Linked DNA regions of Homo sapiens. The protein of the gene in region 1 interacts with the protein of each later gene in a pairwise test. Each region holds a gene or a part of one and is shown in the gene's direction. Other genes may lie near its edges.

Region 1 (5,454 bases):
CTCACTCACCGCACCCTACTTCCATTTCAAACCCGCTACACTGTTTTCAAGCCTTACCTTTAAAAGCTATTTTCAGGAAATTCCCACCCCATTCTAGTTTTGTGCCCTCCTTGCACCCTGGAGTTTTAACTCACAGCACTTACAAAACTAAAGCCAAATGATTATTGATGTATTTATCAGTCGAATGCCTGCTTTCCCTGCTATGCTGTGAGCCCCTTAGAAGGTCAGGACTGAGTTTGTATTGTACATCCCAAAGCCCAACATGCAGTAAAGAAGTGATTGCTGAATGAACAAACATAGTTTTCAAATTTTTTGACACTATTTTTCACTGGCCTGGAGCAAGAGTGAGCATCCTCTTTTTGCCGATAAGAAATAATATTGCCTGAAACGAGAGGGTCTGTGGCTACCAAAGTGGTCTGTGTGTGTGACTGTGTGTTTGCATAGTGCAAATGTGTGGTGAATATGCATATTTGTGGGTCATGGTATATGTATGTTCGTGCATGTGTGTTGTATATATTCTCTGTGTTGTGTGTGCATTGCATTATGTGTATTAAATGGATGTCGTGCATGTATGTGTAGTACATGCAGGTACTGCGTTATGTGGTGCCTATATGCTTGGTGCATGTTACTTTGTGTATGTGATATGATATGCACAGCTATGCATTGTGCAATGTGTCATCTTGTGTGCATGTGTGTTAATGTGCATGTATTATGTGCATGGTTCATATATGTATTGTGTATTGGGGTGATGCCACATGCATTGTTCATCTGGGTGTGTGTTGCAGTTTGCTATTTGTTTTGCATATGTTCACGTGGTGCATGTGTGCACAGGTATTGTGTTGTAACTGTGTTTCTTGTGTATGATGTGCTTCTGTGGTGCATTGTGCTATAAATGCATTGTGTGAATGGGATATGCATATATGTACAAGTGTGTTGTGTTTATTATGCATGTGGTATAAAGTGCATGGATATGTTGTATGTGGCACAAGTGCAGGTAAATTTTGTGGTGTGTGTGCTGTGCACGTATTTGTGTGTGCTGTGTGTGTAGTGTGCATGGGTGTAATACGTGTGTATTGCGTATCTTGTGCATGTGGTGTGATGTGCACATGTACTGTGCATGTACTGTGCCTGTGTGTGCTGTAGTGTTTGTTTTACATGTTTTGTGGTACATGTGTGCGTATGTATTCTTTGTGTGTTGCATGTATGTTATACATGTGAGGTGTGAGTGATACATGTGTATATGTGCAGGCATGTTGTGTATGTTATGCATGTAGTGTGATGTTCATGAGTGTGTGATGTGCACTGTGAGTTGCGTGGTGCAAGTGTGGGTACATTTTGTGCTGTGTGTGTTTGATGTGCACGTGTGCGTTTATGTGTGTGTGCAACACTTCAGTGGTTGCTTCTTCCAGCCAGAGTAACCAACTCGTCTTGACTTGCCTGAGACTTCCCAGATTTTAGCACTGAAGGTCCCAGGCAGTCGGGAGGAAACTCCTCAACCCCTGCGAAGGGAGACGATTGGATTCTCCAATCCCCAGCTTGCCAGGGTTCTCACGGAACGGCCGCCAGCTTTGTGCGGAGGTGCTCAGCGCCCTCTGCTGGCCCCGGCTGGTGCGTGCGGCCTGCGCAGCCCAGGCCTTGGCTGCAGACTCCCCTCTCCAGTCTGCGGTTCAAGCTCTGGCGCCTTCCCTTAACTGGATTCCTCGCCTGCATGCACAAGAGAGTCCCTGCAAAGCAAGGCAAACGATCTCCACCCTCCCCCCAGGGTGACAGGACTCTTCGGCTCCTACCCCTTTAAATCTGGGCCACAATACAACACAGAAGAGAAACAGGCATATATTAAGTGCCTGCAGTATGCGGGCCCTGCACCGCTGCTTTCCCACCAGGACCAGCAGAGCGCTAGGACATCAGGAGCCTGTGCCTCGGGCTGTAGCGCACCCCGTGCTATCGCCAGCCACACATCCCCTTGCAATTCCATCCTTGACTCCTAAGCCAGACAAGCCCCTCTGGCCCAGTTCCTACACCCAAATGCCCAAACTAGCTCTGCCTGTTGTCCTTTCCCCCCTGCCCAGGCCACAGGCCTTTTTCTGAGTACCTTTAGAGTCATTTCTGGAGGTCAGTTTGAATAGGTGGCATTTGAGGAAAATTACCAATGATGCAAGAGCAAAAAAGAAAAATATCAGTGGAAAAGAGGTCAAAAGACAGTCTCTGAAAAGAGAGGCAAAATTACAGTGAACATTTATTGAGCACTTACTATGTGCTAGAGGCTCTGCTAAGTGGTTTTTGTTTTCAACTCTTCATAGAAAACCTCTAAGGTAGGTTTCATTTCATGGATGAGGAAACTGAGGCACAGAAAGATGGAGGGACTGGTGCCAGGTTATCTGACCAGGTGAGTCTGACACCAAAGTCATACTCTTAACCACCACACTACACTTTGCCAGTCTGCCACTCTCCAGACCAGAGATTGGGCAAGTCACATGGGCTGGAAGTGTTTTCATCTTAAAATGGGGAGAACTCACACGGGTCCATGGGGAGACAGTTGCGGAAATGCTTATCACAGCATCCTTGATGGTGCTGAGGAGCTGGAAGCCACCAGGATGTCTTGTCACAGGGCAGGAGGAGCTGGGTGCACCCTATGAGATACTCAGCCTGAGTTAGAAGCAACAGACTCTGGGTACATTCAACAATGAAGGGAGACCCTAAAAATCCCCTGCTGAGTGAAAAAGTAAGGCACAGAAAGCGGCCTACAGCACTGTATCATTAGGGGAAATGTAAATCCATGCAAACTAACCAATCCATTCTTTACAGGAACAGAACAAACTCAATGAAATGGTTGTGCTGTGGGAAAGGGAGGGTCCTCGGGGCAGAGGTGGGGATAAAACTGAATGAATACTGAGGCAAAATAGAGAAGAGCCCATGATGGAACCGCAAACAGGAACGGGATTAACTCAGCCCTTCAAAGCTGCTGTCAAAGAAGGGGCGGGAGGAACAAGCCCGGCCCATTTAGCCTCCTGTAGCACGGATGGTTTTCAAAGTTCTTCCAGGCCCCAGCTCTCCTTTGATCATCCTGGTATCCAGTGCAGGGGCAATGGGTTCCTAGGATCAAAGAGGCTGCTGTGTGAGCCAGTGCTTTGTAATCTACATCTACGGCTGAACTTGAGCGTGCATCCGAACAACTAGATGGCTTGTTAAAAATACAGATTCCTGGCCTCCATTCCTCCAGTTTCTGATTCAGTGGGTGTGAAGTGGGGCTCAACATTTGCATTTCTGCAAACTCCTGGTACTGCTGCTGCTGCTGCTCCCAATCCAGAGACACTTTGAGAACCTCTGCTCTAAGGCACACTCTTTATGCCGAACAGACTGGCCAGAGCAGTGCTCCTCAAACTTTAAGGTGCATGCGAATCTTCTAGGCATCCTGTTAAAATGCAGTCAAATTCAGCAGGTCAGGAGGGCAGCCTCAGATGCTCCATTTCTATCAAAGGCACTCCAAGGTGGCACCAGCACTGTTGGCCCACAGAGCACATTTTTCAACAGTGAGGAGTTACACCACGACTTCCCAAAAGTATGTGCACACCCAACCCCCCTATATTGCTTGTTAAAAAGACGTAGATGTTCAGACCCCCTCACTGGCAATGCTCCAGAGTTCTGAGTTGGAGCCCAGTAATCAGAATTTTTTTAAGCTGATGCTAGATAGTCTGGGGAACTACTGGTAGAGAAAGCGAGTGGAGAGCTGGTAGAGTTTGGGAAGTTTCCACGTAGGAAGCAATACTAGAGTCAGAAAATAGAAAAGAGAGCAGAGAGGAACAGGCTCCCTCATGGCCCCGGCAGTTTGTCCCTAAACATAAATGTCAACTCAGCGGTAGCTGGCTGTGTGCTACCTGCTTTTAACTTGCCTTTATGGTTCAGCCTGTGTTTCCCTGGTTTATGTACCCATAGCTGTGATTAAACAGTTGTGGACCTGTGGTTGAATCCTGGTACCACCTGTTACTGTGTGACCTTGTACAAGTCACTCAACCTCTCTGAGCCTCAGTTCCTCAACTGTAAAATGGGATAATAATAACACCCTTGCATAAGGTTGTAGAGAAAATGAGACACAACGTGTGATGATTTTCCTTGTGTATTAAGTCCAAACAGAAGTTGCCCTTATCATATTCTTGAGTAAATGGCCTAGGAGTAAGTTGGAGTGATGGAGAAAAATGGAGCTGTGGATATCATATTGCTGTCCTTTTTCTGACTGAAAAGTTATTTTCTGGCCCTGGAGGCTGCTAAATCATCATAAATGTGCAGGTACATTGGAATTATCTGGAAAGTCTTAAAAACTATTCATACTCATGCTCCACTTCCAAGGATTTCTATTTAGTTGGTCTGGGGTGAGGCCTGGGCACCAAGAGCTTAAAACTCCCCAGGTGGTTCTATCGTGAAGCCAGGCTGCAAGGCCCCAGGTGGTCAATGGCTCTTCACAGCTGGTGGGGAGAGCTGGGAGGGATATCTTCTGCTTTGTTCCCCACTTCCTGCCCCAGAGGCCATAATGGGCAAGGGGTCAGAGGGAAGGGCAGGGGCGGGAGAGTCGCCTTGGCTGCAGCTTTGTTGTCAAGTAGAAGATGGTGTTGCAATCCACGCGGGGTCCACTCAGTTCCCTGTGAAGACTCTGTCCTGCCAGGCCGTGATTCACCCCAAGATGACTCCCCACACCCCTTGTTGGCTGTGATAGCCTGGCCTGCAAAAGAGGAAGGAGGCAGCTGACAGGGCATCAGTAAATCCAAGAGAGCAGACATGCCCTTCGGGATGAGGGACAAGAACAGGAACAAGCTGGGCTTGAGACCTGGGGCTGGAACTTAGCTCAATTCCCCCCACAAGAGAGGGAAGACAACCCAGTATGGGCAGTGTGAGTGGTGCTTATGGGGCCTGGCTGTCCAAGTCGTGAAGGGATGCCACAAACACCAACCTTCCAGCCCTCGAGTCCACAGTGGCCGCAGCAGAGGCAGTACCTCCTCTGGACCTCCACTCTGGATCCATCACCCCGCAGTGGGGTTGCAGCGTAGACAGAGCTGACTATATAGCGCCCTTTTTTGGGTCAAATGCATTCATGGTAACAAGTGTGGTAGGGTCTTACCCTGCACTTCAGGACAAACCCAGCTGGCCTTGGGGGTTAGATTAGATGTGGTTAATCTGCACCTTGTCCTGGGGTGGGAGGAATTGATGTTATTTACTCCAGTGCCACTCACAGTGTGGTCCTCAGACCTGCAGCCTCAGAAATGCAGACCCTTCAGACCCCACTTAAACCTACTAGATGAAATCTCTACTTTAACAGGATCCCTAGGTGATTTCCATTCATGTTAAAGTTTGAGAGCCATTATGAGGCCAGTGGTTCACAGCCCCCACTCACATTAGAACCAATGAGTCGTCATGTCAAGGCTCCAAAGCAGACCAAGTAAATGTGATTCACAGGAACTCACT
Region 2 (3,500 bases), on another chromosome or scaffold:
TCCAAATATTTGCAAATGTCATAAGTTTCATCCTGTTATTGATTTATAATCCATTCCATTTCTATTAATTTACTTTGTGTGATTTTAGTTAAATATTTAAGTGTATGGAGGCTTGCTTTGTGGCCTGCCATTTGTCCATCCTGGAAAATATTGTGTGTGTGCCTGAGAAGCAGGTGTGTTTGCCCTTGCTAGGCTGAGGGTTCTGCAGATGTTTGTTTCGTCAAGGAGTATTGTGTCGTTCATGTCTTTTTTGTTGTTGATCTTCCGCCTAGGTATTTTATTATTCCGTAAATGCTTCCTCTCAGCAGAATCACTGCCCAGTTTTATTCTGTATTGACAGTACTTTCTGGGAGACCTTGACTCAACCTCTTGTCTTCTGATTTACGCCACATGACCAGGGCGTGACCAGAGTAGACTGTGGCGTTTCTCGGGGTCTTGGTTGGAAGGATATGGTGGTGGGATTGGTGGGATTCATTGCATTGGTAGGATTCTTTTACGGCTTCTGTTCACAGAGCCCTGCCCTGGCTGGCTGTCCTGTGCTTCTGTTTCAGCTCCAAGCCCTCAGTGAGCCTCAGCCCAGGCTGCAGGCAGCAGGCCTGCCACACACAGAGGTGCCACAAGGGAAGGGAAACGTGCTTGGTAACAGCAAGTCCCAGACACCAGCCCCCAGTTCCGAAGTGGTTTTGGATTCAAAGAGACAAGTTGAGAAAGGTAAGCAGAGCCCAGCAGTTGCCCTGTTCCCAGCTCTCCAGAGCCCCATCAGAGGAAGCAGTCCCAGCGAGCTGCTGAGGCAGTCAGTGAACCCGGCAGCGGCGCAGCCAGGAGCAGGGACGTGTCTCTCTGGGCCCCTGGAATTGGGGCTTTGGGGCTTCTCTGACAGATGTCTCCTCCTTGTAAACGAAGTGCCTTGTTCCTGGGCAGCTGTGTAGAGAAAGGCCCAGGCTGCACCTTTATGCAGGACATTGGTGGGCTTGTGGGACTCGGGGGAGGCGGCTGAGCCCCAGACACTGGGAACCAGGAGGCTGCTGTGTCTGTGAGCAAGCCCTGGGTGGGCCTGCCTGCCCTGGCTCCCAAGTGCTTGCTCCAGCGGACCCGATGATCAGGTCACTCAGCAGGATACCCTTTTCCCTTTGTACCTTGTCAAGGTAATTTAGTCCAGGTGTTTTTTTTTTTTTGTTTTGTTTTTTTTTTTGGTAAGCTACTTTTCCCTTTGTCGCGGTTCTGACGATGAGCTGCAGGCACAGAAAGGCCTGCAGTCTGTGGCTGAGGTCACAAAAGGAGCTACCTGGTTGTTCTCCTGTGTGCAGCCCACCCCACCCCCACTCCTTGGGAAGGCTCTGGGAATTGAGTGGCACCAGGTTTTGCTTTTTTTTTTTTTTTTTTTTTTAAATCAAATGCTGGCAAGGTCACAGCTAACTGTGTTCTGTGCACAGAGGAAACCAATGAGATCCAGGTGGTGAATGAGGAGCCTCAGAGGGACAGGCTGCCGCAGGAGCCAGGCCGGGAGCAGGTGGTGGAAGACAGACCTGTAGGTGGAAGAGGCTTCGGGGGAGCCGGAGAACTGGGCCAGACCCCACAGGTGCAGGCTGCCCTGTCAGTGAGCCAGGAAAATCCAGAGATGGAGGGCCCTGAGCGAGACCAGCTTGTCATCCCCGACGGACAGGAGGAGGAGCAGGAAGCTGCCGGGGAAGGTGGGTGTGAAGTTTCGGGGGCCGCTGTGGACTCCCTTCCACCAGACACCCAGCCCACCTCCATGTCCTTCCCAGCACCAACATATCACCCTGAATTTTACCAAACAGCAGTCCACAATTTGCCAATTCCTTTTCGTTTGAAGGTTTCTTATTCGTTATCAAGAGGGAGGCAGGAAGGAAGAGCAGCATATGCTCTAGAACTCGAGGTTTTAGATGCAATATTGGCAGGGAGTCGAGGGGACCTTGCAAGTGGATGGCCTGCAGATGGGTGCTTAGCATCAAGTGGACGCCCCCTCCTGGCAGGCAGGCCACATGCCCCATTTTTGTATGTCCACCGTCGTGCAGTGTCTGGTGCCATTTAGACAATCAGTGCCTAGTGAATGAATGAAGGAAGGAAGGAAGGAATATTGGGTAGATGAAGGTTAATGCATATGTGAACATTGAGAAAAAATGACATGTGAATCACTCCTTTTTGGTTTGGTTGACTCTTTTCTTTTTAAAGAAATAAAGGGTAGGAATTGGAGATCAACCGACTATTCCAGGATGTATTTCAGTCCCTTCAGATATGGAAAATGTCCTTCCCACCTGAGCCAGGAACACTTCTGAGGACATGACACCTGCGCTCTGGGGTGGACCAAGTCACAGAAGTTGGAGAATACACTTATTTGCAGAAGTTACCTTGATTCCATTTAAATCTAATTTTCACTTCAGTGTCTTACTGAAGAACGTGTCCTTCCAAGTTCCAGTTAAAGAATTGGATTTTGTCAGCCTCCCCCTAAGTATCCCTGCTCTGTCCTTGTGTTCCGTGCTCACCCAGCAAGAAGATGCTTGTGGTGTGTGAGGCGGGGAGATCTCACTGGCTCGCTCAGCCTGTGGCGCTCCAGTGTCAGACCCCTCAGCGGCTGGTCACAAAGCGTAACAAAGGTGGGCCTGAGATGCCACAGTGCCTGCAGGATGCACCTGCTTCTAGATGCAGGTGTGGTGACCTCATTTGAAGAAACGCGGTGGACACATAGGCCTGTGCAGTTTCCACCCCAGGCAGTGAGCCAGAGAAAGAGACTAGAGCTGCTTTTCCAGGTGTGCACTTTTAAAAAAGATTTTGTTTGGCCGGGCGCAGTGGCTCATGCCTGTAATCCCAGCACTTTGAGAGGCCGAGGTGGGCGGATCATGAGGTCAGGAGTTCAAGACCATCCTGGCCAATATGGTGAAACCCCATCTCTTCTAAAAATACAAAAATTAGCTGGGCATGGCAGCACGTGCCTGTAATCCCAGCCACTCGGGAGGCTGAGGCAGGAGAATCGCTTGAACCCCGGAGGCGGAGGTTGCAGTGAGCCGAGATTACGCCACCGCACTCCAGCCTGGGCGACAGAGTGAGACTCCATCTCAAAAAAAAAAAAAAAAAGATTTTGTTTACCAGCCTGCATACACATATAAAATATGTAAGTTAAACCCTTTGAGTAGGTCTCTTGAAAGCCTTTTGTCCTCATCTTCTCTGGCTGCTGCCCACTCCAGGGAAGAATAGAGTAATGGGTGCTCTCATGCTCTAAGTATGAGGGACACCTTCTCACGTGTCTCACAGTGGCAGCTCCATTTCCTCTCTCCATTCTAAGGAGATGCTGTCATTAGCTGTAGATATCCGTTCCTTCCTAAAACAGTGGCACCTTTCTTTTATCTTGAGTTGATTATCTCTTTAAAAAATTGAGATTTGGGTTGTTAGTTTCTCCATGTTCTGCCTAGAATGCACCCTTGTATTTAGGGCCATGCTGTCTGTAGATTCCGAGTCCAAGTGGAGTACACATAATGCATGTG

The links.
Region 2: the proteins of GALNT15 (region 1) and GOLM1 interact in binary tests that used the Homo sapiens proteins (3 or more experiments, as listed by UniProt).

What each region holds. Positions count from the first base shown.
Region 1 is NC_000003.12:16,176,925-16,182,378, forward strand, and holds part of GALNT15 (polypeptide N-acetylgalactosaminyltransferase 15), read left to right. Parts: intron 1-5,454. UniProt on the Homo sapiens protein: Catalyzes the initial reaction in O-linked oligosaccharide biosynthesis, the transfer of an N-acetyl-D-galactosamine residue to a serine or threonine residue on the protein receptor.
Region 2 is NC_000009.12:86,033,559-86,037,058, reverse strand, and holds part of GOLM1 (Golgi membrane protein 1), read left to right. Parts: intron 1-551; coding exon 552-711; intron 712-1,433; coding exon 1,434-1,691; intron 1,692-3,500.